5 separate regions of the Homo sapiens genome follow, and all the other regions are linked to region 1. The links come from fine-mapping of genetic effects on gene expression. A gene starts in region 1. Each other region holds a variant in brackets. All regions are shown on one strand. Distances are from middle to middle.

Evidence for each region. PIP is the estimated chance that this variant, and not a neighbour inherited with it, causes the effect.
Region 2: its variant is the best candidate, but not a certain one, in a credible set for the expression of CDV3 in whole blood (INTERVAL, PIP 0.90).
Region 3: its variant is the best candidate, but not a certain one, in a credible set for the expression of CDV3 in whole blood (INTERVAL, PIP 0.86).
Region 4: its variant is the best candidate, but not a certain one, in a credible set for the expression of CDV3 in prefrontal cortex (ROSMAP, PIP 0.81).
Region 5: its variant is the best candidate, but not a certain one, in a credible set for the expression of CDV3 in adrenal gland (GTEx, PIP 0.74).

The regions. Positions count from the first base shown.
Region 1 is chr3:133,570,997-133,576,098 of GRCh38, forward strand. CDV3 (CDV3 homolog) reads left to right here and starts at 2,690. Exons shown (of 5, transcript NM_017548.5): 1 at 2,690-3,288; 2 at 4,043-4,119. The coding sequence starts at 3,049. RefSeq lists enhancers at 1,679-1,918, 1,861-2,362, 2,019-2,188 and silencers at 2,569-3,108, 3,129-3,238, 3,269-3,658.
Region 2 is chr3:133,654,024-133,659,125 of GRCh38, forward strand. TOPBP1 (DNA topoisomerase II binding protein 1) reads right to left here. Exons shown (of 28, transcript NM_007027.4): 3 at 4,993-5,102; 4 at 3,775-3,918; 5 at 2,653-2,834; 6 at 1,267-1,463. Among named protein-coding and RNA genes, the nearest start is that of TOPBP1, 5.4 kb to the right of the region's middle. The variant T/C (reference allele first, on the strand shown) is at 2,130.
Region 3 is chr3:133,628,544-133,633,645 of GRCh38, forward strand. It overlaps TOPBP1 (DNA topoisomerase II binding protein 1), which reads right to left. Exons shown (of 28, transcript NM_007027.4): 15 at 17-190. Among named protein-coding and RNA genes, the nearest start is that of TOPBP1, 31 kb to the right of the region's middle. The variant C/T (reference allele first, on the strand shown) is at 2,832.
Region 4 is chr3:133,413,120-133,418,221 of GRCh38, forward strand. The region is part of intron 1 of BFSP2 (beaded filament structural protein 2); the gene reads left to right. Among named protein-coding and RNA genes, the nearest start is that of BFSP2, 16 kb to the left of the region's middle. The variant G/T (reference allele first, on the strand shown) is at 2,848.
Region 5 is chr3:133,543,327-133,548,428 of GRCh38, forward strand. It overlaps the pseudogene FAM76AP1. Among named protein-coding and RNA genes, the nearest start is that of CDV3, 28 kb to the right of the region's middle. The variant C/A (reference allele first, on the strand shown) is at 2,081.

The DNA of each region.
Region 1 (5,102 bases):
GTGCAACCAATCTGGAGAAGGGTGGTAGGGGAGGTTTAAAAGGAGCAACTGATGGGAACAGATGCTGTCAATTTTAGGGCAGGTGATTCAAAGAGGAAGGGACCAGCTTCACAGAGGAGAGAATTACTACAAACAATGACACAACCACAAAGACACTGGTCTCTCTACTGGCCTGACCTGAATTTCTTACACATGATCAAGTTCTGGGATCATGCCATCAATCACACTGAAAAATGTAGTGGGAAATTCTGCAGCGTCAGCCCTCAACTACTGTTCCTTCTGTGTATTTTCTCAAGTCATTAATTCTTTCAAGACAATGATGAATTGATAAGGACTTAAGAAAGATATAAATAACTGAAACTTATTTATATCTAGATCTTCTCTTCTAGATTATAAGGGAATTGAATGCAGGAATCACAAATTACTCACTTTTGAATAAAGCACTTTGCCCGAAATATAGCAAAATAAGTGCTTCATAGATGAGGAAAGAAAGAGAGGGAGAGGGCCGGGCATGGTGGCTCACACCTGTAATTCCAGCACTTTGGGAGGCTGAGGTGGGTGGATCACGAGGGTCAGGAGTTTGAGACCAGCCTGGCCAACATGGTGAAACCCCGTCTCTACTAAAAATACAAAAATTAGCTGGGTGTGGTGGCGGGTGCCTGTAATCCCAGCTACTCAGGAGGCTAAGGCAGGAGAATCGCTTGATCCTGGGAGGCAGAGGTTGCAGCGAGCTGACATGCCATTGCACTCCAGCCTGGTGACAAGAGCAAGACTTTGCCTCAAAAAATAAGTAAGTAAATAAATAAATAAATAAATGAAAGAGAGGGAGGGAGGAAGGAAGAAAGAGGGGGGAGGAAGAAAAGAAGGAAAGAAAAGAGGAAGGGAGAAAAAAGAAGGAAAGAAAAAAAAGAAAGAAAATAAATTTGATTAGCGATGGTAAGGGAGGGTGATGGTGATGGGCAGTACTGAACCTGGCCTGCATCACAGGAAGATATATGTTGTCATAGAAGGAAGTCACCTTGGGAGCTGTTCATGTTTGGGGAATAGTATATGTATAAGCTCAAGCTACTTGCTGGCCAAGGCTAGGTCCTTGATTTCTTTTGACATTCAGAAGTTAGACTTTTTTTTTTTTTTTGAGACGGAGTTTCACTGTTGTTGCCCAGGCTGGATTGCAATGAGGCGATCTCGGCTTACTGCAACCTCCGCACCCCCGGGTTCAAGCAATTCTCCAGCCTCAACCTGTAGCTGGGATTACAGGCGTTAGCCACTACGCCCGGCTAATTTTCGTGTTTTTAGTAGAGACGGGGTTTCATTATTTTGGTGAGGCTGGTCTCGAACTCCTGACCTCAGGTGATGCGCCTGCCTCGGCCTCCTGAAGTGCTGGGATTACAGGCGTGAGCCACCGCGCCCAGCCAGAAGTTAATTCTTTAATAGCAGTGTAAGTAGGGGGTAGGAAAAGAGAAACTTTAATGGGGTAACTGTAAAGGAAAAGACGAAGAAGTCTCTCCATTTACTGGCTGGATTCTATCTACCCCATATGGCTACCAACATTTGTCTGAGTCATTTCCTCAATGGTTGTGACAGCTCCCTCTTCTGCTTTTAGAAGGAGGAAGTAGAAAGTTTAAGAGCTTACTTTAGACCACCTTTTGCATATAGAATTCATTTCATTTTCAAGGCCCCAAGGGTATTTAAATGGGCTTTAAACCCATTTAAACCTGGCTTTCGCCTGGGCATTTTGGTCTCCACCCCTATGATAAGACAGTCCCCTCCTTTTATCAGGGATAGAAGCTAAGGATAAACTGTATCATCATCTAGACTCAAGTCAGGGCGTTAAGCAATGTGCTGAGCAGCTAATAATGTTGACTCTCTTCCCTCCATCCCCCTATCTTGTAAGAAATAGTATACCCACTTTACAGATTAGGGACTTGACGATAGGATTTATTGAACTTGACCTTGGTAAACATAATCCAGAGGGTGGAGTTCAGACAAAATCCCTTTCTACCTACCAACCAGCCTATGAAAGATCTTTTAGTAAATGGGACCTAAACTTCAGGCTCACTGCTCCTCTCACTTTCACAATCAACCGGTAAAGAAGAAAAGTAATGGTTGCCACTCCAGAGGGGGTGGAAGTACAGAAGCGATCAGAGGAGAGGAACAATCTTTAACACAGTTGGCTTAACGCAGTGCCTGTCCGTTTCGCGACAGTTCAAACGACTACTATGGGGCCACGGTTTGTTCTGGGCCAGGAAACACACGTGCATCCTGCGCATGCGTCCAAAAGGAACCCACTGCCCCTCCTGCTGGACCTCTTTAGCCAAGTCATCAACCAGCCCTCAACATGCCCGCCCTCAAGACTAAACCCTCGGCCAATCGGGAAACCGGAGTCGCCCGGCACGTCACTTATTTTGCATATGCCCTCCTCTCCCCGCCCCCATGCTTGGACTCCGCCCCGTCTGGGTCAGGGATTGTCACCTAAGAGCTTCGTCCTGGCACCTGATTGGCTCTCTTTCCAGCTCCGCCTCCATCTCCTCCCGCCGCCCGCCCCTTGGCGATCCCACAGCGGCAGGCAGAGCAAAATACGCAGGCGCAGGCGCTTCCTCTCTCTTCTAGCGGCCCGCCCTCCCTCCTCCCTCTCCCTCCCCTCCCCACTCCCTTCCCCTCCTCTCCAGGCCTGCGCGCGCGCCTCTTCCTCCGGCACGCGCCGCTGCTAGCCGAGCACTCTCGCCAGAACCTCTGGCTCGCGCGTGCCTTTTCCCCTCAGGTTGTGGGGAGAGCGGAATCCTGCTCCGCCGTCGCAGCAGCAGCGGCAGCCCCGGCAGCCTCGGGCGACAGCGGCGGCGCGCGAGCCCCCGGGCGGACCGTACCACCGCTCGCCAGCACGCAGGGGGAGCCGCCCGTCTCGCCGCGCACGCCTCGGCGACCCCGCGGGGCTGAGGCGTCGCCGCGCCCGGCAGCGTGAGCGCAGAGCCGGCCTCGACCCCGAGCTCGGAGCCCCGCGGGCCGCGCCCGCCGCCGGCCCCACCCATCCGGGTCGAGGAGGCCGAGGCCATGGCTGAGACGGAGGAGCGGAGCCTGGACAACTTCTTTGCCAAGAGGGACAAGAAGAAGAAGAAGGAGCGGAGCAACCGGGCGGCGAGTGCCGCGGGCGCAGCGGGCAGCGCCGGCGGAAGCAGTGGAGCCGCGGGTGCGGCGGGCGGCGGGGCGGGCGCGGGGACCCGGCCGGGTGACGGCGGGACCGCCAGCGCGGGGGCTGCGGGCCCAGGGGCCGCCACCAAGGCTGTGACGAAGGTGAGGGGCCGGGAGGCCGGCACTCGGGGCCCGGGCCGCGCGCCGGCGCCCCATGTGCCCGCCCCCGCCTGCCGGGGAAGCGTCCGGGAGGGGCCGCGGAGGCCGGGCGGACGGGCGCGGGCCGCCACGTGACGCAGGCTCTCCACCTCGGGCTGGGCTCGCCAGGGCCGGGACCCCTTCCGATATCCGCGGTGGAGCCGCCCTTCCCACCCCGCGTCGCTCGGCGTTAGCCAAGGCCCGGGCGGCGCCACCCTCCGGGGGCACTAGGTCTGGGGCCGCAGTGCCCAGCACAGAGCAGCGTTTATCGGGTGACGTCTAGGCTGAGTAATTCCGTGTGCTGACCTCAGCCCAGTAGTTTGAGCTGAATTTTCGCTTTCAGCAGCCGCATTTGTAGCAGCTCTTTTGTGATGACTTAGTCTCTAAGCCCGTGAAAGAAAAAGAAAACTCTCGGTGGCAAGGTTGAAGTAGAAATGTAGTTGTGAAATTCCTATTGACTTCTTCCTTCGGCTTTTCTTAGTTGCTTAAAGTAACAGCTCCCATGCAGGAACCCAGCGGAAGTATAGTGTTAGCCTACGAGCATGTTTGTCCTCCATTTAGCCTAGTTTGCCCCAGAACGAAGCAAGGGCTTTGACCAGAAGACAAGTACATACTTAGTTTAGGTTCCAGCCACTTGATCCACTTTTCGTAGTGTGTTATTTGCTTAGTTATATGTCTACAAATAGCTTTAATTGATCAAATGGCGTTTGTTTTACAGGACGAAGATGAATGGAAAGAATTGGAGCAAAAAGAGGTTGATTACAGCGGCCTCAGGGTTCAGGCAATGCAAATAAGGTATAGTCTGGTTACAAATGTGTTTAGATAACCTTTGGGATAGATATTGGATACAAGTTAGGTTTTCCTTTGGCCCCAAAGCAGCATCATAGTAGCCTTGTGCTCTAGATATGCTTATTAGGACTCAAATGGGTTCTGTCTACTCTTTCTCACTCCATGGAGGCAGCCCTTCCGTGTGCTCATGAAATTAGCTGCTGACTCTAAAATCCTGTGAGAGCTTGCCTACTTCCAGTTCTGGTTAGGACTTTTCATTTGAGACAGCTAAAGTGGATTTTGTCGCTTCAAAATTTTTACTTTTAACATCGGTGATTGTACTTAGTTTTGGTTTCAAAAGTAATGTGGATGTTTTTCACATCCTCTCCAATAAGCAAGTGAATATATGTTTTTGTAATTGAAGTATATCATACTTACAGAGAGATAGAGGTTTTATGTGTTCACACAGTGCAACCAACCTGTGCAATAAGCACCAGGTCAAGAAACTGAGTATTACTGATACAGAACAAGGTTCCCCTCCTAACACATACTCACTGCATTCACCTTCAACATAACCACTATTCTAACACCATAATTTTTTCTAAAACTTCATAGGAATGGAATTATATTTGTAAACATGTTATTTTTTAAAGTTCAAAAAAATAGTAATTTTTAAAAATTGGGTAGTTTAGAAGATTTGAAATTAACATTTTGTCAAGTCCAGTCTATGGCAGTCAACTTTAAGGTTGATGTTAAGTAAGTGCTATATTTTGGAGGGTTCATAAAGTAGGAAAAAACAAATGAAGATATGGTTCTGCTGTAAGATGAAAAAATCCTTTGCTCCCGGTTTAAAGAAATAAAGGATCTTGATAAACTGTCTCCAGTTTGAAGGTTGCATTTTATAGGCAATGCCAGTGAGTGCGAGGCACAGTGGAGGAAATACTTTCCTTAACTGAAAACTGTCTTTTGACTTCTCTGGATGTTAGTATCTATAGCTTTAGATAACTTAC
Region 2 (5,102 bases), 83 kb after region 1:
TTTTAGCTTATTGCCTAATTATATTTTCTATGTGTAGTATAAATACATATGCCATGTGAGAGGTTTTATCTTTTATACAAACTGCAGGAAGACAGAAGCAACTGTGGGGTAACTTAATTAATATTGGACTTGGGTTTGCATATAGGCTCCATCACTTAATTTCTTTAAACCAGCTTGTACAATGTGAAAATTGTAAATTTGTGCTATATAATAAATCCCAACTTTGAACAGACTATTCCAATGTCAACAGGCTTCTACTTAAAGTCCAGGATAGATAAGCCAAAAGATAAATTATATTGAAAATATGTATCTTTTATTACCTTAAAAATCTTCAACACAATGTATTTTGAAGCAGTATCACAGAGGAATTGAGGTCAATATGTCACATGAAAGGTTTTTTGGCATTCTTGAGAGAATCAACAATGAACTGTCTTCAGATTCAGAAAAAGAACAGCAGTATCAACTCTACTCACAGTGATCCTATCACAATCAGCCATACTCAAAGTTCTGACTTAAGGACAATTACCATTTAATCGTAATTTCTTCTCAATCTAGATAGCTTAGTAAAACACAGTATACATATAAAGGGCAATAATAAAAACATTAACAAAACTCATCTTTTATCAATTTGTGTATATTTTAAGAGTGCTGATAAAAAATTATCCAGAATAATGTTATGTAACACCAAACTTAATAGCAATTTTAAAGAATTTTTCTTGTTCGTAATGTCTTTTTCATTTTTTACTGCCTCATGTGCCGCAAGGTGTGTCTTCCAGTTAAAACTTTGCAAGATGTTAGAGAAAACATCTTTGCAAGATGTTAGAGAAAACAGTATCAAACTAGATTAATGACATGTCAGAAGTAAAAGCTGTTCTGTAAAGATTTTAAAATATTAAATATTAGTGGCTGGGCACGGTGGCTCATGCCTGTAATCCCAGGACTTTGGGAGGTTGAGGTGGGAAGATCAATTGAGGTCAGTTAGAGACCAGTCTGGCCAACATGGTGAAAGCCCGTCTCTACTAAAAATAAAAAGTTATTCAGGCGTGGTGGCAGGTGCCTGTAATCCCGCTACTCGGGAAGCTGAGTTGGGAGAATCGCTTGATCAAGGGAGGCAGAGGTTGCAGTGAGCTGAGATTGTGCCACTGCCCTCCAGCCTGGGCAATAGAGCAAGACTCTGTCTCAAAATAAATAAATAAATAAATAAAAATAAAATATTAAATACTAGAGAAAATGTTTCATTTGTCCCTTTGTGAAACACAGTTTTACCTTTTGGTTCTTGCACAATGAGGTGTGTACATTCATTCATTTTCAATTGTCCCATGTATTGACCTCCATGCTTAACTGTGAGTTGCTGAACTTCTTTCCTGTCTAAGCCACATAAGCCAGTCACACAGATTATGCAACCAAGAAAAATAGGACACTTGAAATCTTCCATGTTTATATCAGTATATCTAGTTATTTTTCTGTGGGAATCAAATGGTTAAAAAAGAACATATTAAATTTACCAGAAGAATAATGAAAAACAACACAAATATCACTATTGCTTCCCTCATTTTTTAGGATTTATAATCTTTTTTTTACAAAGGAGAACCACCAAAACAGAATTACACTAATTGTTCACCTAGTTCAATAACATGTCTCTAAAACAAAGTAATTGTTTCAGATACAGTCTCTCAAAACCATTTTAAGGGAAAAATATATATTTCCTTAACTCTAGCCCTTGCTGGTCATAGTATATTTTCCAAAATGATAAGTCTGAATCTCTACTTAAAAACCCAAAGGTAATTTGGTTGCCTATTAGATAAATGAACTTTTTAATCTTTCCATTATTCTATACAAGTAAAAGCAATGATTTTTGGCAAAATACCAACAAAAATATCATTATTCTGTTGCCATGCTAGGGAGGTGTGCTGATGAAGTAATCACATTGGGAATGAGAGTTGCTGACATGGAGACATATTTGGGATATGCTGGATGGTGTTGAAAACAAGCCCAGAAAAGTGCCGATATAATTCGTATGCCAATACAATTCTGTGGTGTTTGGTCTTGTGGTTGTTTATCTAGTTGCAGGGGAAACTGAAGTGTGCCCCTTGAAATAGGCTCTAAGCTCCATGAGGGAAGTGACTATC[T/C]TGTTTTGCTTACTACATATACCTAATGCCTACCTCAAGTCAGATACGTAAAATGGGCTCAATTAGCATTTATTAAATGATCACATCTCAGCTGATGACTTGCATATGTTTATATTCAACCTTACATATGCCATCTTTTGGAAGGAATGCAACTGCCAAAATGACTAATTTATTATCTATCTTAACATATGGGAATGGTGTTGAAGGATAATGCAACATAAAAGCTACAGAATTGCCAAACTCGTTTTCTCAATTATTTCAGAAATATTTACAGCTGAGAACTTTATCACCAAAGCATTTCCTACTCTGTAGCTAATGCTAAACCCTTGGCCCATTCTATGCCTGTCAACTTATATCTTGGTAATAAGAGCTTGTAGATTCTGCTCTTCCGTTTTCGCTGGAGAAAAGAGTAATGACACTATTTTTTTCCCTGAATAGTAAGTCCAAAGAGTATATCACATGCCAAAAATGATTGAATGCATCATTTTTTCAAATCTAGAAAATATAAAAATGTCTTTCTTACTTCTCTTGTGACTTCTCCCAAAGTGTTTTTATCCAAGAGGGAAGCAAAATAGGTTTCTTCAGGTTTGCAGCAACTAAATATTTTTTGCTACCAACTTCTCCTGCAATAAGGTGAGTTACTGATACATTAAGGTCTCTGTATACTCGTCCGCCCATCATTTGTACATATTTATGAACTTCTTCCTGCAGCCCCAAAAGAGAACACATTAATGCTGAAGCAAACAATATTGCTTCCACTTTTATACACTATCTCATAAATACATTTTGCTGTTGACAGTTTGAATACATAAGTGTTACATAACATTATAAAGTTAAATAATTAACCAAATTATTTTTTGGGAGATAAGTATGAATTATATTTTTAAAATATTATTTTCCTATATTTATCCCTTTCAACTCCATGAATGTATTAAACTATTATACAAAGGATGTATAAATCTTAATCTTTGCTTCTATATAAATATACATGTGTATTTTTAACAACATAAATTATATCTATATAATATATAAATATTTATTTTTAGCCAGGCTTGGTGGTGCATGCCTGTAATTCCAGCTACTCGGGAGGCTGAGGCATGAAGATTACTTGAGCCCAGGAAATCAAGGTTGCAGTGAGTTGTGATTGTGCCACTGCACTCCAGCGTGGGTGACAGTAAGACCCTGTCCCAAATATATATATGTATTTCTATAGCTCTCTCTTAGAATGCTTTTTTTTTTTTTTTTCCAAAACGAAATCTTGCTCTGTCACCCAGGCTGCAGTGCAGTGGCGTGATGTTGGCTCACTGCAACCTCCACCTCCCTGATTCAAACGATTTAGAATCCTTTTTTTTAAAGACTGTCCACCTATAGTGGAAAAATGTAAGTGATTAAAAAATGAGTGTCCTTTTAAATTAAAACAAAAAATTTCAATTAGCCAGTTTTCAACAAAACAAATTCTACTATATTCAATTTACTTAAAAAATGTACATGTATACATATATACACACTGTGGTTGTATACTGAACTTTGTTAAAAGTCACGAACAATAAGCGGAAAGTCTTTTAAGCTATCTTCTATGCAGTGAAAAATTAAGAATAAGAGATAGATATATAAATTGATCAATCATCATGAGATCAATATCTACCCTTTTTTCTTTTTCCAGACTTGTACAAGATATGGTTACATCAGACATAACCATATTATAAACTGGATGTTCGGCTCTTGGGACACATCGCTGGTGGTGCATACAAAATATGACTACTTGAGGACCAACAATTCTGCAGCCAAGCTACAAAAAAGAGAAAAGTTTAAATGAGTTAAGAAGGAAAAGACCACCAGTCTTACAAAATTACATTTTGTAACATTCACCAATTCTTTACCAAAGTTGATGACCACTGTAGAGAAATCAGCAAATCATTACAAGAAAAAAATAAAGATGACTATATAATTTCTCAGAGATACTATACATTAAACACTCACACACAAAAGCAAATCAAACAATGCAAGCTATCAAAAGAAATAAACTTCAGGCCAGGCACAGTGGCTCACGCCTGTAATGCCAGCACTTCAGAGGAGGCCGAGCGGGGGTGGATCACCTGAGGTCAGGAGTTCGAGACCAGCCTGGCCAACATGGTGAAACCCCGTCTCTACTAAAAATACAAAAATTAGTCGGGTGCAGTGGCGGGCACCTGCAGTCCCAGTCTCTAGGGAGGCTGAGGCAAGAGAATTGCTTGAACCCAGGAGGCGGAGGTTGCAGTGAGCTGAGATCACGTCACTGCACTCCAGCCTGGGCGACAGAGTGAGACCCTATAACAAAAGAAAAAAAAAAAGAAAAGAAAAGAAATAAACTTCAAAAGCCCCTTTCACTGAAAACTGCCTTACTGCTTACATCTATAAGCCCAATATTTTGGGAGGCTGAGGTGGGAGGATCACTTGAGTGCAGGAGTTCAAGACCAGCCCAGCCTGGCCAACATCGAGAAACCCTTTCTCTACTAAAAATAAAAAAATCAGCCGGGTGTGTATATACATCTGTAATCCCAGCTACTCAGGAGGCTAAGGCACAAGAATCACTTGAACCAAGGAAGCAGAAGTTGCAGTGGGCTGAGCTTGTGCCACTGCACTAAAGCCTGGGCAACAGAACAAGACTCTGTCTCCAAAAAACAAAAACAAAAACAAACAAACAAACAAAAAAAGCCTACTGTAACATAATTAGCCTTTCAATCCTGGTCTTGCCAAACCAAAAGAATTCCAATGTACTCATAAGTTGCATAGTACTTTATAATCCGCAAAGAATGTATGTCCATTAAAGCAAAGATAAACCAAAAAATAGACTACCAAAGGTACACACTAGAAGTCAGCAAACCTTTTTGAGGTGATCAAAGACAACGCCACTAAAAGGGTCACAGATATAAAGTGATCTATCATTCTCCTTTATCTTCAATGCCTCTTCTTCTGTAATAATCTGAAGATATT
Region 3 (5,102 bases), 58 kb after region 1:
AGAGAACTAATCCTACCTTCTCTGACTGGGCCTCTTTCAGTTGAGGGCTGGCAGAAAGAGCGACAGCATTTCGAGAGCTATTTGCCAAAGCAAGTTGCAAGTTTTTGACAATAACTTCTGAGAGTGGCGTACTCGGTTTCCTTTTCTGTTGGCTGGGACGTCCTGGAGTTTCCAAGGCTGCAAGTGCATCCTATACATATGAAGGAGAGAGAGAGATGGAGAAAAGAAGAGAGAGAGAGAGAAGCAAGATGGGTTAATAGGACAGGAAAAAGAAAGAGGAGGAGAGAGGGGTAAAGAGAGAGAAGGGGGAGAATCCTCAAAATTAATGGATTACAGTTTAACTTCCTCTAGTTTTCCTCCAAATAACAAGAAAAAGAATAAACTATAATCAAATCCATATACTGTGAACAAAAATTCCATACTGTCCAGCAAATTGGTTCAAAGAGACTAACTAGCTTACATTTTCAGCAGTGCTTGTCTCTTACCTGAATCTTAGAGTTGAATTTGAAAACAAAACAAACCAAAAAAACCCAGAAGGAAACAAATAAGCAACGACGGATATAATCAAGAAATGGATTATAAGGAAGGTTAGAAAGTCAAAATGAGCTGAGAATTAAAAAAAAAAAAATCTTCAAAAGTTCAAAATATATTCCTGTTCTAAAGCCACCAACAGTTCCCTCCTGAAAGGAAGCTACTGTTGTCCAAATGGCTTGCTCATTCTCTTTTGCATGTGTATAGTATTCCATGTATGTATCAGAATGTATTTAACCTGTGTACAACTGATAAGCTTTCGGTTAACAGTCTTTTGCAAGTATAATGATGCAATGAATAACCTTGTACACAAACCATTTTGCACACACAAGAGTAAAGGAAACCTTTTAAGCAAAATGTATCTACCAGCCCAGTGCAGTGGCTCCTGTCAGTAATCTCAGCTACTCCAGAGAAGTTGAAGCAAGAAGACAGCTCAAGACCAGGAGTTTTGAGACGAGTCTGGGAAACACAGTTAGACCCAATTTCTTTTTAAAAAAACTAAAAAAACAAGACCAACATGTATCTACCAATGTTGACATTTTCATGAGCAAAGTATGAGTGTGTGTGTTTTCCAAACGTGCTTGATATCACAGTAATCAGATTTTTCTTTTTTGACAATCTGATAAGACTAAAAAATTTTATCTGTATGCTTTAATTTTCTACTCTTTTATACTGAATGAGGTTAAATATCTTTATATGTGTGTGTGTGTGTATATATATATATATTTTTGAGACGGAGTCTCGCTCTGTCACCCAGGCTGGAGTACAATGGCGCGATCTCGGCTCACTGCAACCTCTGCCTCCTGGGTTCAAGCGATTCTCCTGCCTCAGCCTCCCGAGTAGCTGGGACTACAGGCATGCACCACCATGCCTGGCTAATTTTTCGTATTTTTAGTAGAGACAGGGTTTCACCATGTTGCTCAAGCTGATCTCAAACTCCTGACCTCATCATCCAACCGCCTTTGACTCCCAAAGTGCTGGGATAACAGGCGTGAGCCACCGCGCCTGGCTATATGTATATTTATATCTAATTTTTTGTGATAACTATCTGCTCCTATCCTTTGCCCATTTTTCTACTGGGTTGTTAGTCTTTTTTTTAATATATTCGCTTGTATGAATATACTTTTATATTCATTTGTATGAATTTATATGTGCATGTATCAACTGTGATATAATACCCACGTATTTATTTTCAATTTATCATTTGTCAAATTTTTGCCATGGAGCTTTTTTTTTTTTTCAGAGATGGAGTCCTGCTTTGTCACCCAAGCTGGAGTACAGTGGCATGATTATAGGTCACTGTAACTTCTAACTCCTGGATTCAAGGATCCTCTCACCTCAGCCTCCCAGGTAGCTGGGACTCCAGATGCACAACCCTGTGCTCAGCTAATTTTAAAATTTTTCATAGAGACAGGGTCTTGCCGTCTTTCCCAGGCTGGTCTCAAACTCCTAGGCTCAAGCAATCCTCTCGCCTTGGCCTCCCAAAGTGCTGGGATTACAGGTGTGAGTCACGGTGACTCGCTGTAATTTTTTTGTTTTTTGAGACGGGGTCTTGCTCTCTTGCCCAGAACGGACTGAAGTGGCTCAATCTTAGTTCACTGCAACCTCTGCCTCCAGGGCTCAAGCAATCCTCCCTTGTCAGCTGGGACTATAGGTATGTGCCATCACACCCAGTTAGAGAATTTTTAATGCTGTCAAATTCATACGAATCTTCTATTTCTTTTGGAGTGTATGTTATAGTTAGGCCTTCCCCACACTAGGATTATTTTAGAAACAAATTCATGACATGTTTGGGAATTTTTATGGCTTCATTTCTTATGTTTAAATCTGATCATCTAGGCTGGGTGTGGTTGTTCACGCTTGTAATTCCAACACTTTGGGAGGCCAAGGCAGAACTGCCTGAGCCCAGGAGTTCTAGACCAGCCTGAGCAACATGGTGAGACTCTACCTCTCCAAAAAATACAATTAGCTGGGCACAGTGTCATGTACCTCTAGTCTGAGTTACTCCAGAGGCTGAGGTGGGAGGACTGCTTGAGCCCAGGAGGTCAAAGCTGCAGTGAGCCACGATGATGCCACTGAACTCCAGCCTAAGTGATAAAGTGAGATCCTATTTCAAGAAAAACCCCAAAAGTTGATCATCTAAAAAGTATTCTGATGTAAAGTGTGAGCTTTAATTACAAACGTATTTTCAGATGGCTACCTAATTGTCCAATTTGAATGCCACCTTTATTACATAATAAATTCCCCTATTTGTGGAGTATAATCTTATACACTAACTTGATTATTCACGTGACACCACA[C/T]TGTTTTAACTACTGCAACTTTATAGGAGGTTTTAATAAACGGTAGGGCTACTGCCTACCTGCAATTATACTTTTCAGATTTTTTTTAATATTGTTTCTGCTTGCATTTTTTTCTAGGACCTACATTACCTTTTGATATGGTTTGGATTTGTGTCCCCACTCAAATCTCATGTTGAACTGTAATCCCCAATGATGGAGGAGGAGCCTGGTGGCAGTTGACTGGATTATGGGGGCGGATTTCCCCCTTGCTGTTCTTGTGATAATGAGTGAGTTCTCATGATATCTGGTTTGAGATGGAGTCTCACTCTGTTGCCCGGGCTGTGGCGCGACCTTGGTGCAATGCAATCTCTGCCTCCTGGTTCAAGTGATTCTCTTGCCTCAGTCTCTCGAGTAGCTGGGATTACAGGCATATGCCATCACACCCGGCTCATTTTTATATTTTTAGTAGAGATGGGGTTTCGCCATATTGGCCAGGCTGGTCTTGAACTCCTGACCTCAGGTGATCCACCCACCTTGGCCTCCCAAAGTGCTGGGATTACAGGCGTGAGCCACTGCGCCTGGCTGATATCCAGTTGTTTAAAAGTGTGTGGCATCTCCCCCCGCTATCTTTTCCTCCTTCTCCAGCCATGAAAGACGTGCTCACTTCCCCTTCATTTTCGACCGTGATTGTAATTTTCCTGAGGCCTCCCCAGTGGTGCTTCCTGTACAGCCTGTGGAACTGAGTCAATTAAACCTCTTTTCTTTATAAAGTTGGACGTGGTGGCTCGCGCCTGTAATCCCAGCATTTTGGGAGGCTGAGGTGGGTGGATCACTTGAGGTCAGGAGTTTGAGACCAGCCTGCCCAACACAGTGAAACCCCGTCTCTACTGAAAATACAAAAATTAGCCGGGTGTGGGGGTAGGCGCCTGTAATCCCAGTTACTTGGGAAGCTGAGGCAGCAGAATTGCTTGAACCCAGGAGGCGGAGGTTGCAGTGAGCCGAGATCATGCCACCGCACTTCAGCCTGGGTGACAAGAGCAAGACTCCATCTCAAAATAAAAAAATAAAAATAAGAATAAATTACTCGGTCTGGGGTAGTTCTTTATAGCAATGTGCAAACAGATTAATACACCTTTATAGATCTTGACAATGTTTAAATCTATTTTGCAAGAACATGGTAAGTCTTTCTATATGCTAAACTTTTTAAAATTTCTTCAAAGCATTTTAGAGGATTCCTTATATAAAAATCAGAAGCTCCCATACCACATCTATCTGCCTTCAGCACACGTGCCACTAGTACCTTCCTCTACTTAAGAAGTAGATCCCAATGCCTCTCAGACTCAAGCCTCCTGCAAGTCTTCCTTCTCTCATCTGCATCATCAATTGGCTCTCTAATGGCAGTTACACTGGCATATAGTTATTTCTTCTTCTTTTTTTGAGACAGGGTCTCAGTTTGTCACCCAGGCTGGAGTACAGCGGCATGATCACTGCCCACTGCGTCCTCTATCTCCTGGACTCAAGCAATCCTCCTGCCTCCGCCTACCAACTAGCTGGGGCTACAGACGTGCACCACCACACCCAGCTAATTTTTGTGTATTTTGTAGAGACAGGGTCTTGCCATGTTGCCCAGATTTGTCTTGAAATCCTGGACTCAAGTGATCCTCCCGTCTTGGGCTCCCAAAGTGCTGGGATTATGGGCATGCACCACTGAGCCTGGCTATTTCTTCCACCTTAAAAAGAAAACAACCTTCTTTTGACCCTACTTTGCCCCATAACTACAACTCCATTTCTTGGCTCCCCTTTATGGCAAGATTCCTTCAAAAATCGTTGTTTACACTCAATGTCTCCGATTCTTCTCATTTCTTTATGAACCCACACCAGCTTCCACCTCCATCATGCCACCAAAACCCTTATTGTTATGATGACGCCATTGACCTTCATAATGCTCAATCCACTGGCCAATTTTCTATTCTCACCTTTCTTTATCTTAGAGCAGTCCTGGACATAGTTAACCCCTCCTCCCTCTTTGAAATACTTGGCTCTTTGAAATAAGCTCTAGGCTTTCCTCTTCTCTTATAGCTCCTTCTCAGTCTCCTTTGCTGGTTCCTCCTCTAAAGGTGAGCACCTCAAGGTGTTGCTTAGAGCTCTTTTCTTTGGCTGGACGTGGTGGCTCACACCTATAACCCCAACACTTTGGGAGGCCAAGGCAGGAGGATTGCTCAAGTCCAGGAATTTAAGGCCAGTCTGAGCAATGTGGTAAGATCCCCGTATCTACAAAAAAATTAAAAATTA
Region 4 (5,102 bases), 160 kb before region 1:
CTTACTTTGGGGTATATACTCTTTGACACTGTTTGGAGGTTTTACCTTAAATAAAATATGCAGTAATAAATAAAAGTCCTGTCAGTGGCTTTTGGGGTGGGGGAAGCAGTAATTCCTATCAGGTCTTGGGGCAGGGGAAGCCTTCAGAACTCCACGGAAGCAAGAGAACCTTTCTACTGACGTGTCCCGGTGGGAGAGAAGACCCATCTCCACAGCTCCTCTCAAAACAAACCCAGCCAAATTAAACAAGCGTACAGAAGAGCAATAGGAAAGATGTTCTAAAGGGCTACACTCTCCAGAAGAGCTAAATTAAAACTAATCCAGGCAGCTGGCACAAGTGCTGAGGACAAATGTGGTGGCTTTTTACGGGGGAATTAGTGAAAGAATGGCTGAACCAAGCAGAATGTTACTCAGGGTCCCCAGCGCTCTCCCAGAGGGTTTATGCTGATCCACCGAATTTGAGGACTCAATTTAGGCAAATAAAACCTAGTTTATTGTCGTCTGGCTGGGGAAAAGCACATAAAGACTCATTGATCTGGTTGTAAACGAGCTAGTAGAGCTGGCTGTCACAAGTGCATTATTCAGCAGAAACGAGAAGTGATTTCAGCAGTCCTCAGGAGGGAGTGAATGCAGGGCACAGGAGTGGAAATCTCCACCACCAAACTGACCACCACTGGAAAACAACTTGTCCTTTTTAGTTACATGTTTATTGCAGGACCAACGAATAACCATCTAAATAAGCGCTAACTAAATAACACTACAGTGTGGAAGTTAGAAAGCCCCCGCATTTCAGCAGGCTCTGGGAAAAATTATGCAGAAGACAAAGTCCCCTGCTGAATGTAACTGCCCACGCCTGCCTGGCCCCTGTACTCACGCCCTACTCATCCCTGTCCGCTCCCGTCTACTCACCCCTGCCCTCTCTCCCCTACTCACCCCTCTACTCACCCCTGCCCTCTCCCCTCCACAAACCCCTCTACTCCCCCCATCCTCTCCCCTCTACTCACCCCGTCCTCTCACCTTACTCACCCCTGCCCTTTCCCCTCTACTCACCCCTGCCCTCTCTCCCCTACTCATCCCTCTACTCACCCCTGCCCTCTCCCCTCCACAAAACCCAGTACTCACCCCTGTCCTGTCCCCCCTACTCACCCCGTCCTCTCACCTTACTCACCCCTGCCCTCTCTCCCCTACTCACCCCTCTACTCACCCCTGCTCTCTCCCCTCCACAAACCCCTCTACTCACCCGTCCTCTCCCCTCTACTTACCCCTGCCGTCTCTACTCACCCCTACCCTCTCCCCTCTACTTACCCCTATACTCACCCCTGCCCTCTCCCCTCTACTCACCCCTGCCCTCTCTCCTCTACTCACCCCTGCTCTCTCCCCTCTACTCACCCCTCTACCTGCCCCTGCCCTCTCCCTTCTACTCACCCCTCTACTCACCCCTGCCCTCTCCCCTCTCCTCTCTACTCAGCCCTGTCCTCTCCCCTCTACTTATACCTGCCATCTCGTCTCTACTCACCCCTCTACTCACCGCTGTCTCACTCCCCTCTACTCACTCCTCTACTCACCCTGCCATCTCTGCTCTACTCACCACTGCCCTATCCCCTCTACTTACCCCTGCCATTTCCCCTCTACTCACCCCTATTCTCTCCCCTCTACTCACCCTGCCACCCCCCCCCCGCTTACCCCTCTACTCACTCCTACCACGTCTGCTCTATTCACCCCTGCCCTCTTCCATCTACTCACACCTGCCCTCTCCCCTCTACTCATCCCTGTCCTCTCCCCACTACTCACTCCTGCCCTGTCCCCTCTGCTCACCCCTCTACTCACCCTGCCATCTCCCCTCTACTCACCCCTGCCATCTCTCCTCTACTCACCCTTGTCCTCTCTCCTCTACTCACCCCCCTACTCATCCCTGCCCTCTCCCTTCTATTCACTCCTGTCCTCTCCCCTCTACTTGCCCCAGTCCTCTCCCCTCTACTCAGCCCTGCCTCCTCTGTTCTACTTACCCCTCTACTCAACCCTGCCCTCTCCCCCGTCCTCTCCCCATCCTCTCCCCTCTACTCAACTCTGTCCTCTCCCCTCTACTCACCTTTGCCCTCTCCCCTCACCTCTGTCCTCTCCCCTCTACTCACCCCTGCCCCCTCTGCTCTACTCACCCCTCTACTCACCCTTGCCCTCTCCCCTCTACTCGCCCCTGTCCTTTCCCCTCTACTCACCCGTGTCCTCTCCCCTCTACTCACCCCTCTACTCAACCCTGCCCTCTCCCCTCCACAAACCCCTCTACTCACCCCTGTCCTCTCCCCTCTACTCAACCCTGTCCTCTCCTCTCTACTCACTCCTGTCCTCTCCCCTCTACTCACCCCTATAGTCACCCCTGCCCTCTCCCTATTCACCCCGTCCTCTCCCCTCTACTCAGCCATGTTCTCTCCCCTCTACTCACCCCTGCCCCCTCCGCTCTACTCACCCCTGCCCCCTCCGCTCTACTCACCCCTCTACTCATCCCTGCCCTCTCCCCTCTACTTACCCGTCATCTCCCCTCTACTCACACCTGCCATTTCCCCTCTACTCACCCCTCTACTCACCCCTGTCCTCTCCCCTCTACTCATCCCTCTATGCACCCTGCCATCTCCCCTCTATTCATCCCTGCCATCTCCCCTCCACTTACCCTTCTACTGACTCCTACCACCTCCCCTCTATTCACCCCTGCCCTCTTCCCTCTACTCACCCCTGCCCTCTCCCCTCTACTCACCCTCGCCCTCTTCTCTACTCACGCTTGCCCTCTCCCCTCTACTCACCTCTGTACTCAGCCCTGCCATCTCCCCTCTACTCGCCTGACCTCTCCCCTCT[G/T]CTCACCCGTCTACTCACCCCTGCCCTCTCCCTTCTATTCACCCCGTCCTCTCCCCTCTACTCACCCCTGTCCTCTCCTCTCTACTCATCCCTCTACACACCCTGCCATCTTCCCTCTACTCACCCCTGCTATGTCCCATCTACTCACCCGTTCTCTCACTCTACTCACCCCTGCCCTCCCCCTTCACCACTGTCCTCTCCCCTCTAGTCAGCCCTGTTCTCTCCCCTTTACTCACCCCTGCCCCCTCCGCTCTACTCACCCCTCTACTCAACCCTGCCCTCTCCCCTGTCCTCTCTCCTCTACTCACCCCTGTCCTCTGCCCTCTACTCAACTCTGTCCTCTCCCCTCTACTCACCCGTCCTCTCCCTTCTCCTCACCCCTGTCCTGTCCCCTCTACTCATGCCTGCCCTCTCCCCTCTACTCACCCCTGCCCTTTCCCCTCTACTCTCCCCTATACTCAACCCTGTCGTCTCCCCTCTACTCATGCCTGCTATCTCCCATCTACTCACCACTCTACTCATCCCTGTCCTGTGTCTGCCCTCTACTGACCCCTGTTCTCTCCCCTCTACTCATCCCTCTATACACCCTGCCATCTCCCCTCTACTAACCCCTTCCATCTCCCCTATACTCACCCCTGCCATCTCCCCTCTACTCACCCCTGTCCTCTCCCTTCTACTCACCTCTGTCCTCTCCCCTCTACTCACCCTTGCCCTCTCCCCTCTACTGACCCCTCTACTCTCCCCATCCTCTCCCCTCTACTCACCCTTGCCCTCTCACCTCTACTCACCCCTTTACTTGCCCCTACACTCTCCCTTCTACTCACCCCTGCCCTCTCCCTTCTATTCACCCCTGTCCTCTCCCCTCTACTCAGCCCTGTTCTCTCCCCTTTACTCACCCCGCCCCCTCTGCTCTACTCATCCCTCTACTCATCCCTGCCCTCTCCCCTCTACTCACCCGTCCTCTGCCCTCTACTCACCCCGTCCTCTCCCCTCTACTCACCCTCTATGCACCCTGCTGTCTCCCCTCTACTCACCTCTGCCCTCTCTCCTCTACTCACCCCTCTACTCCTTCCTGCCATCTCCCCTCAACTCATCCCTGCCCTCTCCCTTCTACTCAGCCCTGCCCTCTCCCCTCTACTCACCCCTGCCTTCTCCCCTCTACTTACCCCTGCCCTCTCCCCTCTCTCATCTCTCTACTCACCCCTGCCATCTCTCCTCTATCCACCCCTCTAGTCACCCCGCCTCTCCCCTCTACTTACCCGTGTCCTCTCCCCTCTACTTACCCGTGTCCTCTCCCCTCTACTCACCCTTGCCCTCTCCCTTCTGCTCACCCCTGTCCTCACCCCTCTACTCGGCCCTGCCATCTCCCCTCCACTCACCCCGTTCTCTCCCCTCTACTCACCCTGCCCTCTCCCCTCTACGTACCCCTGCCATCTCCCCTCTACTCACCCCACCCTCTCCCTTCTACTCACCCTCATCCTCTCCTCTCTACTCACCCCTACCCTCTCCCCTCTACTCACCCCTGCCCTCTCCCCTCTACTCATCCCTTCCCTCGCTCCCATCTCCCCTCTACTCATCCCTTCCCTCTCCCTTCTACTCTCCTCTCTACTCACCCCTGCCATCTCCCCTCTACTCACTCCTCTACTCACTCCTGCCATTTCCCGTCTACTCACCCTTGTCCTCTTCCCTCTACTCACCCCTGCCCTCTCCTCTCTACTCAACCCTGTCCTCTTCCCTCTACTCACCCCTGCCATCTCCCCTCTACTCACCCGTCCTCTCCCCTCTACTCACCTCTGTCACCTCTCCTCTATTCACCCCTCTACTAGACCCTATCCTCTCCATTTTACTCACCCCTGCCCTCTCCTCTCTACTCACCCGTCCTCTCCCCTCTACTCACCTCTGTCCTCTCCCCTCTACTCACCTCTGTCCTCTCCCCTCTACTCACCCCTGCCATCTCCCCTCTACTCACCCGTCCTCTCCCCTCTACTCACCTCTGTCATCTCCCCTCTATTCACCCCTCTACTAGACCCTATCCTCTCCATTCTACTCACCCCTGTCCTCTCCCCTCTACTCATCCCTATCCTCTCCCCTCTACTCACCCCTCTAGTCCCCCATGCCCTCTCGCCTTAACTCACCCCTGCCCTCTACCTTCTACTCACCCCTGTCCTCTCCCCTCTACTCACCCCTGTTCTCTCCCCTCTCTTCCCACCTCCTCAGCTCCTACTGCTAGCCCTACTGCCCAGAGTACTTCCAGG
Region 5 (5,102 bases), 28 kb before region 1:
AGGTAAGATACAAATTAACATGTACTGAGTGCATTTGCTTCCCAAGGCTGCCATAACAAAGTCCGTAAACTGGGTGGCTGAAAATAACCGAAATGTATCCTCTCACAGCTCTGGAGAGTAGAAGTCCAAAATTAAGGTGTCATGGGCTTGGATCCTTCGAAGGGCTATGAGGGAGAATCTGTTCTCGGCCTCTCTCCTTGCCTCTGGTGTTTTGGTGGCGATCTTTGTTGTTCCTTGGCTTGTTGGCGCGTCACTCCAATCTCTTCATCTTCACATGGCCTTTTCCTTGTGTGCATCTCTGTCTCTGAGTCCAAACTTTCCACCCTAATGTCTTCATCTTCACTTAATCATCTGCAAGGACCCCATTTCCAAATAAGGTCACATTCACAGGCACTACGGGTTAGAACTTCAACATCTTTCAAGGGAATGCAATTCAATCCGTAACACTGAGGAGTTAGTAAAAATAGTTAATATCTATGAAATATCAGGAACTGCCGTGACAGTCATTTTATATACATTATTCTTAAATTTTCTTTTCCTTTTTTTCTTTTTTTTTTTGAGATGGAGTCTCACTCTGTCACCCAGGCTGGAGTGCAATGGCACGATCTTGTCTCAATGCAACCTCCGTGTCCCAGATTGAAGCAATTCTACCTCAGCCTCCCAACTAGCCGGGATCACAGGCATGCACCATTACACCTGGCTAATTTTTGTATTTTTAGTAGAGACAGGGTTTCACCATGTTGGCCAGGCTGATTTCGAACTCCTGACCTCAAGTGATTTGCCCACTTCAGCCTCACAAAGTGCTATGATTACAGGCATGAGCCACCACGCCCAGCCTATATACATTATTCTTAATCCTCACAAAGATGCCCTCATTTTATAGCTGTAGAAACTGAGGATAAGAAAACTTATGGGGCTTATACTAAATTACATAGCTAGAAAGTACAAGCTCTGGAATCAGATAGGCTGGCTTCACCACTTACCTGTGTGAAGCCTTGGGCAAGTTATTTTAACCTCTCTGTGCCTCAGTTTCCTCATTTGTAAAATGAGGATAATAATCATGATTCTTTCATTCATGCTGAGTTGTTGCAAGGATTTTATTTATTTATTTTTTTCTGAGTTATATTATGTGCCAGGTTCAATATTATTGTTTTATATACCTATCTGAATTACATTTCCCCATGTCTTTGTGAGACATGTCTTTGTGAGACAATAACTATTGTTATTCCCATGGAGAAAGATGAAGAAAGTGATGCATAATGCGGCCAAGTAGCCAGGGTCATTCAGCTAGCCCCAGGAGTCAGATGGGACCCAGGTTTGGGGGACTGCTGCTTGTGCTACCTCCTGATTACTAATTAAGATTCTTCAGTATCTTGATACAGGGAAGAGGTGTCCTGGTTGGCAGGCAGGAGTATCCTGGTCAATGGAAAGTTATATCCTTCCATTGTAAGTTAATGAATTTGGTAAGCAAGAGTCACCCCTTGAGCCCAAGCACCTCTTAAAAGCACCTCTGGTCACTGAAAAAGAGTTTCTCAACTGCCATCTTTTATTCAACAAATACTTATTGAGCAGCTACTATGTGCCAGGCCACTGGAAATAAAGCAGAGAATGAGATGGACAAAGAGCTCACATTCTAGTCGGGGTGGACAAACATGTAACCAAATAAGCAAGACTAGTTTTCAATATGTGAGATGCTATGAAGACAATAAAATGGTATGATAAATAATGACTAAGGGAGTCAGTAAAAGGTCACTGTGAGCAGGTGGTACCTGAGCTGAGACCTGACATGATCAGCCAGTTATGAGACTCTAGAGAAGGGTGCATTAGGCACAAGGACAGACAGTGCAAAGGTCGGAGTGAGATCTGCATGTCAGACAGACTACAGGGTGGTGGCCAGGATGGCTGGAGCAAGGTGAGAGGTAGAAAGTATGATGCAAGATGAGACTGAGAGCTGGGTATGGGCCTTGCAGGCCATAGAAGGGATTTCAGTTTTATTCTAAGCACAACTGGAAACCCGTGGAGGATTTTAAGCAAGAGAGTAATATGCCCAAACTCTAAATCATTTTGATTCTATCAAGGT[C/A]TACCCTTCCACGTAGAGCTTCCCTCTAACGTAATCTTGTAATCTTGAATTTCAACAGATAGAAACATTTAAAGAGCCAGATAGTAAAACTGGTAATGCCACTCCATCTTGCTTAAGTTACAATCTCTCCTTTACAGGATTCCACAGAATTCTGGCAATCACCATTTCACTTACGTGATGACTGTAATTCATATTCTCGTGAAATGTTAGAATATAATGGTCCACATTTTATGAATGAACAAAACAAAATATGAATATCTTCTTTAAGGTCAATAATAGAACCAGGAAAGAAACTGAGAAATCTTTCTTTGTTACATGTGTTTTTTTTTTTTTGTTTTTTTTTTTTTTGAGATGGAGTCTTGCTCTGTCACCCAGGCTGGAGTGCGTGGCATGATCTCAGCTCACTGCAACCTCTGCCTCCCGGGTTCAAGTGATTCTTCTGCCCCAGCCTCCCGAGTAGCTGGGACTACAGGCGCATGCCACCACGCCTGGCTAATTTTTTGTATTTTTAGTAGAGACGCGGTTTCACCGTGTTAGCCACGATAGTCTTGATCTCCTGACCTCATGATTCTTGCCTCGCCCTCCCAAAGTGCTGGGATTACAGGCATGAGCCACCACGCTCGGCCTATTAAATGTGTTTTTAACACAGTCCACCTTAATTTCTCGTTCCATACAACTGCACGTTCTGAGCACATTTCTTGCATATTGTATTGGTTTTACTCTCCTGCTGGTACTCAGTCCTGCAGTAGGTGCACTTCACAACAGGGTGTGCAATCCGACATTCCTTGCACAGCTGCTGCCCCTGAGACAGCACCTGGAAGGGGAAACGCTGGTGGCACTTGGTGCAGGCGTAGAGCGCCGCCATGTCCGGCCCGGGCCGCGCTCACCGACCCGCCAGCCCGGCCCGCTGATTTATCTCGTTGCAAGGATTTTAAAGATAATGCACAGAGGGCCGGGCACAGTGGCTCACGCCTGTAATCCCAGCACTTTGGGAGGCCAAGGCGGGCAGATCACGAGGTCAGGAGTTCGAGACCAGCCTAGCCAACATGGTGAAACCCCGTCTCTACTAAAAATACAAAAATTAGCTGGGCGTGATGGCGGGTGCCTATAGTCCTAACTGCTTGGGAGGCTGAGGTAGAGGAATTGCTTGAAACTGGAAGGCGGAGGTTGCAGTGAGCCAAGATCATGCCACTGCACTCCAGCCTGGGCGAAAGAGCGAAACTCCGTCTGAAAAAAAAAAAAAAAAAGGTAATGCACAGAGCCTGGTACATAGAAATTACTGAATTCATGGTAGTTGTCGTTATAAGTCGTGGAGTCAAGATTTAAATCCACATCTCCTTAGCTCCAATTTCTTCATTCTTTTCTCTCTGATCCAGCATAACCAGGTGTCAGGCACTTCTGTGTCCATGATCTCATAGAATCTTCATAATACCTCTGTGAGGTGAATATTTCTGGCTAGCTTTTATGCTTGTAGGAAATAAGGCACAGAGAGGTGAGGTGACTTTACCAAGGTAATCCAGTAAATAAAGCATTCTATTCTAGCTCCACGGATTCTAATATTTCTTCCCCTATGTTACCTCTCATCCCAGTGCATGGAGGTTCACAGGCATAATATAAAGGAACATTTTCCTCTACAATGGTTTGCTAATAGCCTCTATATCTAAGGTAGTCAGTCAAGATTATGAGCTAAGTCAGTGGCCCAACCTGAGACTATGACAGGCAGAGTTCTGTTCCCATAAGAGTCAGCTCCTGCCAGGTTCAGAAAGCTCAGGCCACAGAATATGCTGTTAATCTTGAGAAAGTCCTTCAGGAGAAGGAAGCTGTCTCTCCCTCTTTTTCTCCCTCTCTCTCCCCTGCTCCTACACCACACACACACACACACACACACACACACACACACACAATGCTTATAAGAGTCTTCACCCTTGGGACAAGCAACTAACCATTGAAAAGAGATCGGTTATATAAGACTTTTCTGTTCGGAAGCCTGAAAAGTGAAAACCAGCTGTGATATGGTTTGGATCTGTGTACCTGCCAAATCTCATGTTGAAATGTAATCCCCAGTGTTGGAGGAGGGGCCTGGTGGGAGGTGTTGGGTCAGGTTGTCTAAAGTGCGTGGCACCTCCCCTACTCTCTCTTGCTCCTGTGTTTGCTGTGTGACGTGCAAGCTCCTTGCTTTGCCTTCTGCTGAGAATAAAATCTCCCTGAGGCCTCCCCAGAAGCTGAGTCCTGATGCCAGCACAATCCTTCCTGTATAGCCTGCAGAAACATGAGCCAGTTAAACTTCTTTTACTATAAACCACCCAGTCTCAAGTATTTCTTTATAGCAATGCAAAAACAGCCTAACACAAGCTGCCAGGCCCAGTTCATAGTTCCCCAGCAAACCAGTGCTAGGGAGGATTCCAAAAGACAAAAATAGAAAGAAATTCCAAAAATGCAAATACCTCAGAGAGGAATGCTTTTGGGTTTCTTCATCAGGATAGAAAGAAAGTTAGAGCAGCAGAAGCCTTTTGCTGGAGCTTTCTCTGATCCTCCCTGTACCACCTCTGCCCAGCGGCTCTCCACACCACAGCTTAGTCCTGCAGACACCTGGGGAGAACAGACATTTCTGTAGCTACCCAGGGGCCTCATCTGGCACTTAGACAAGTTTTGTTCCACCTGCACACATTTTTAAGTAGTTGCTAAAAATTTTAAATTATGAGATTTTACCTAAGCTTTTGGATTTTTGTTGTTTTGCTTCTTTTGAAAAATCAAAGGTTCTGGCCAGGTGACTGTATTCTTGAGTGGTGTGAGCTGGAGTTGGGTCATGGTTGCCTCCTGATTATTTTTATGCCTAGACCACTAATCTTGTCTAGTCCCTGCAAGAATTCGGGTTTTTCACTTCAGGCCAACTGTGACCTCAGCTCTGCCTGTCAAATGAAACAGATGTGGCTTTGCCTTGGCATTCAAAAATATTTCTAAGCATGGCTTATTCAGACTTACCACTCATGACTACACTTCGTTCAAAATTTTTCTACTCCTT